Regions from separate parts of the Homo sapiens genome. Here region 2 is linked to region 1. Evidence: fine-mapped expression QTL. Tissue or cell type: whole blood. Region 1 holds a variant in brackets; the other region holds the start of a gene. All regions are shown on one strand. Distances are from middle to middle.

Evidence for each region. PIP is the estimated chance that this variant, and not a neighbour inherited with it, causes the effect.
Region 2: SERINC5 starts here. The variant in region 1 is fine-mapped to the expression of SERINC5 in whole blood (TOPMed, PIP above 0.99). The same link has a PIP of 0.9 or more in monocytes.

Annotation. Positions count from the first base shown.
Region 1 is chr5:80,125,706-80,128,391 of GRCh38, reverse strand. It overlaps a transcript of SERINC5 not described here. Among named protein-coding and RNA genes, the nearest start is that of THBS4-AS1, 43 kb to the right of the region's middle. The variant G/A (reference allele first, on the strand shown) is at 1,222.
Region 2 is chr5:80,254,628-80,257,313 of GRCh38, reverse strand. SERINC5 (serine incorporator 5) reads left to right here and starts at 1,266. Exons shown (of 12, transcript NM_001174072.3): 1 at 1,266-1,418. The coding sequence starts at 1,392. RefSeq lists enhancers at 1-166, 167-1,100 and silencers at 954-1,393, 1,504-1,783.

The sequences.
Region 1 (2,686 bases):
AGGACGTCAGGTCAAAGATTACTGTGGATTTCTGGTTTCCCCTTGTGGCCCCAGCAGCTGCTTTGCCAATCCATCTAATCTGCATTCCAGCCAGAAGACCCTGAGGGCACTGGGCTCCCTGGAGAAAAATTCATTGCATGTTTTACGGCAGGAAATATCAAGATGAGTCTGGAAATATCTTCTTATTGCCAGAAAACAAACATACTTTCAAAGACCCTTGGAAGACAAGCTAAGTTATGTCTAGTCATAAATTTTATCTAGAAATAAGTTTTGTAACCATTATAGTATTTTGTGTATATTTTTCTGCTTTTTAAGGTAAGTAAAGAGACTGATTCATTAGACTCAAAATATTAGTAAAAATTTATAAGATGTTGATAACTAAGTTTGAAATAATGTTCAAATGTTTAAATTGTTAAATCTTTAAATTTATAATTTATTAAATTTGTAAGGTTAAACTTTTTAAGTTCAGTATGTTTTCAGTGTTTATTAAGATTTTGCCTATAGAAATGTGAGTCTGCTTTGTTGTTTTTTTCCTTGAGAAATCAATTAAAATTAGATTGTAGTTTGAAATGTCTAAAACTTAATTCTGAAAGTTTGATAAATATTTGGGAGTACCTTATCAAATTTACAAGCCAGTTGGGCATTCATCAAAACCAAATAAAAGTAGATAATAAAATATTAACAAAACTGATTTATAAATTAACACAAGTTTAAAGTCTTCAAAATTAAGTTTTAAAACATATAATTTAAATATATAAAATATAAGTTGAAATTAAAGGGAGTATTTATTTCAATGCATAAAGGCTCTCTTCAGACATAAAGAAAACTCAGATGACATTTTGGAGGTAGGTGGTATCAGTCAGTGTCGGCTAAGTTATGCTGTGGTAACAAGCAACTCCAAAACCCTCAGTGGCTTACAATGACTAAAGTTCAGTTCTTGCTCACATTGTGGGCTACCGGTAGCTTTGCTCTAAGTTTTCCATCCTGGGACCAGCAGTCTGTATTTGGGATATTGCTGGTTTCATGGAAGAGAGAACGAACATAGTAGAACCATATGATGAATCAGAGCTTCTGCTTCGAAGTGGCACACATCACTTCTGTTATCATTGCATTGGTCAAAGCAAGTCTCATGGCCACTCTTGAGGTCAAGGAGATGAGAATATGTAATCCTCCCACAAGAAGGGACACCTCAAACCACATCTCTAAGGCTGATGCAATGAA[G/A]TGGGGAAGTATTATCTTCCCCAGGGTGGGGCAGCAAATATTTTGAGTAATAAAATCTACTGTAATGGGGAATAGGAGGTTTTTAAAAAATTCTTACAACTTAGTTTTTTCCCTGTCACATAGGCTGTCAGTATATCCTAACTTACAGAAGTGATTGTGATTGTGTCTGGGTGTTGGAATTATGGTGATTTTAATCTTCTTCTTTGAAAGTTTTTGATGATGAGTATATATTTATTTTGTAGACAAATTAACAATTTTTAATTAAAAATTTAAATTATACCAGGCTTGGTATCGCATGCCTGTAATCCTATCACTTTGGGAGGTCAAGGTGGGAAGATCACTTGAGCTTAGGAGTTTGAGGCCAGCCTGGGCAACATAGTGAGACCCTGTCTCCATTTTTATATAAACAAATAAGCAAAAATTTTGATGAAAAATTTTTTTGTAACCAAATTAAAATTTATGAATTTCATTTGTACAAAAAAGGCAGTGGATAACTAACTTGTTTTTAATATTGGAATGGTAGTATGTGCAGAACAGTGTTTTAGAAAAATACATCTCACAACATTGAAGAAGAAAATGTATGTTGGAGATTTTGTGTTTTAGATATATCTCAACCTGTCAGCTTTGAAAGAATGTGGCTATGAAATGGAGTGTGTTTGTTAAAGAAATAAGTAAATCAGTAAGTGAATGTTGGTTAGTTGGGTGGAGAAAGGCTTAGAAGCATCTAGCACTAAAAGATATATTCTTTTGTGGTTATCTGGCTGATGTCATGAAATTCTGACTTATACCACCAGGGAAGCTTACATTTCTCTTTGGCAGGGAACTTCAAATTTAGTACAGTTTGGACCTCACTGCATAGTCATAGTAAAAACTTTTGTACTTAATTGACTCTTCGTTTGCTTCTGGTTTTATAGTGGCCTTCCTGATGAACCAGCTTTTTATAATCCAAATTGGATCTGTGCCTACTTAATTGTTTCTGTCCCAATTCTACTTGGTGGTCAAGACTGAATCAGATTTTCGGTTCCTCCTTCTCCTCTCGTTTTGACTTTCCAGTGTATTCAACTGAATTTTCATCATAATGACTCCAAAGTACTCTTCTCTTCCTTTGTCTTGTGGTCACAAGAAAAATCACAAGATCACATTGATGGATGACTCATGAGCTCCTCATCTTTCTGATAGAGTCTCTGAACTGAACCAGCGTGAGTCTAGGTTTGCAGGAAGGCTTTTGATTCAGCCTTGTGATTCTCATGAATAGATGGCAATAGAATTAATTTCTCTCTCGATCTTGCTTTTCTTTTTCAACTAATAACTTTATTTACATCTATTTTCCTCCCTACCCAACCCACTGCATGTCCTTTTCTTGACCCAGGTGATGACGTTTCTTAAACCAGTTTGCTCTTCTCCGTATCCAAAGCTGCTCTCGTAGGTCACCATTATAACTCCACAGTTAATGCAGCAACTGCCC
Region 2 (2,686 bases), 130 kb before region 1:
ATCAGACGAGTGGATTCCAGGCCCAGTTTTACTTCCTCAACTTTGCTGTGAGGCTTTGGGCAAGTTATTTAACCTCTCTGGGCTTCAGTTGCCTCACCGCTAAAATGGGTACGGTAATGCTTATTTGAAAGAGCAAAGGGATTGGCGCAAAAATCGCACTAACAGAAATATCTTCATTCCGGCAGGGCGCGGTGGCTCACGCCTGTAATCCCAGCACTTTGGGAGGCCGAGGCGGGCGGATCACCTGAGGTCAGGAGTTCGAGACCAGCCTGGCCAAGATGGTGAAACCCCGTCTCTACTAAAAATACAAAAAATTAGCCGGGCGTGGTGGCAGGCGCCTGTAATCCCAGCTACTCGGGAGGCAGAGGTTGCAGTGAGCCGAGATCGCGTCACTGCACTCCAGCCTGGGCGACAGAGTGAAGCTCCGTCTCAGAGAAAAAAAAGAAAAAAAAAAAAGAAATACCTTCATTCCTCTTGGGGAGGTGGCTGTGAGGACAGCAGATCTGAGTGGGAGAAAACCTAGAGACGGCCTCCCTGCCTTCTGTATGGAACAAGCAATTATTGGGCACCCTCTTTTTAGTGAGGAAGCAGGGACGGAAAATGAGTCCTTGGGCCAGCGCAGGAGGAGAGGCTGGAAAACATATCAATATTCAGGAAGGCACGGAAAGGGCTCTCAATGGATCTCTCACCAAGTGCCATCAGGGCAGAACAGTCAAGGGCCCAGGGATTCGAGGAAGCTTGGGAGGCGCGGAGAGCCCAAAAGTTGAAAGTTTTCTTGGCAGATGAGGGAAGGAAAGGGATTTCAGGAACAAGGATCTCGTGGGTGGGCTGTCCCAGTCGGCGCGCGGCAGAGCGCAGACCAGCACCCGGCGGTCTGGTCTGTGCAGGAAAGGCAGGAACCGCTTACTAAGGCTCCAACCTTTTAGAGGCAGCAACAAGCTCTTTCTCTGGATCCGAAGGCGGAGAGGCGCTGCGCTCTCATTTGGCGAGGGCCCGAGCGCGGCCAGACCGCGCACCAGACCCGGAGCGTGGGGCCCAAAGGCTGGCGGCCGACTCCGGAGCTCGGCGCCCCAACCGGGAAGTGATCGCAGCAGCCCACCCGCCTGACGCCAGCGGAAGTGCGAGCCCGGGTCGAGCCTGCTCCGCCGCCGGGCGCCCGGGAAGGGGCGGGCACGGGGCGGGGCTGGGGGCGGGCGAGGCGGGGCCGGCGGCGGGGCGGGGCTTGGCCGCAGTTGTTTTTACCCAGGCCTCGGCGCCTAGGCGCTTCGCCGAGGCTGATCTTCGTTCAAGTGTGAGCTGCGGCTGAGCCCAGCGCTCGAGGCGCGAGGCAGCCAGGAGGGCCCGTGCGGCGCGGGGAGCCAGCGAGCGCGCCTTCGGCATTGGCCGCCGCGATGTCAGCTCAGTGCTGTGCGGGCCAGGTGAGCGAGGCCGGGCGCAGCGCGGGGGTTGTCAGATCGGAGAACCGGGCCAGGAGTCCAGGCGTGGAGGACCTGCCTGGGTGCGCTCCCAGCTCCGCGGCCGAACGTAGGGCCCGGGTGGGTCGCTCGGGCTGGCCCCGCGGCGCTCAGCCGTCCGGGAAATCCTGTGCCCTGGGCGGGCGGGAAGGGGCAGGGGGAAGCCCGAGAGGCTACCCCGGGGTCTTCCCGTCCGGCCTCCGGGACTCCGCGTGGAGCGGGGCGTGCCGGGCTCGGGCGGAGGATCCCGACTGCTCCAGGGGCGTGTCGCCTCTTGCGCCGAGCACTGGTGAATAGCGCTGAGCTCCGTAGCCCTCTCCACTCTGCTTGTCGGATGAATCCAGGAAGAAAAGTGGGTTTAGGCACCGTCTCCTTTGCTATGCCCTGAATAAAACTCGGGTCAAACAACCCAGGCAGGTTGCGCTTGGCATCTCGTAGTCGAGCGTGGGCTCTGTACCTTTGAGAATGTCTCGAAGCCTGACTTCCAAACTACCGGGCGCAGGTCTGGGCGAAGGGAAAACTCAGCCCTGCTTCCTGAATTTCCCGACCCAACCCTGGCTCGGTACTAGCACGACTGCCTGGGTAGGGCTGGAACCTTCCTGCCTCTCTTTGCAAATAAACTTGTTCGAACCTGTTTTTTAACTCTCGCCTATTTAAACCTATGATGTCTTAAAACATTATGTCTCCTACCAGTTACTGCATCAGTGTAGAATTAGTACGTCTTAGCCCTGTAATGCTGGTTTCACTCCTTCCTGCAGAGTTAGAAAAAACGAAGTAGGTGAGTCTCTTGGATGTGGAGCTCTTTTCTCCCTTTACATGTGGATTATCAGCGTTTCGGTACAGAGTTTTAATGGAGTGTTTTCACGAACGAATCAGACTCTAGGGAGCATCCTGGTTCGGGGTGTTCTTGCTGACACTCAGCCTTTCCACAATCGAGGCCAGCTGTAAGTGATGGAGTGGTTAAACTGTGGGTTTCTGTAACCGGCGATTATACTGGCAGATAATCTGTCCTGTTTAGAGTGGCCACGTGGAGCTGTCTTGGTTTTTGAGGTCTAATACTGTGCTTGGCATACATTAAAGCTGGCCTTTTCAGAGTTGAGGAAATTGAGGCTTTTGACGACTGAGACGAAATGATTTTTTTTCCCTGTGTCAGGCAGAGAGAGAAAGAGAATGAGAATGGTCACCACCTTACCAGGTATTTGAGAACAAGGTGGACCAGGAAAGACTGTTTT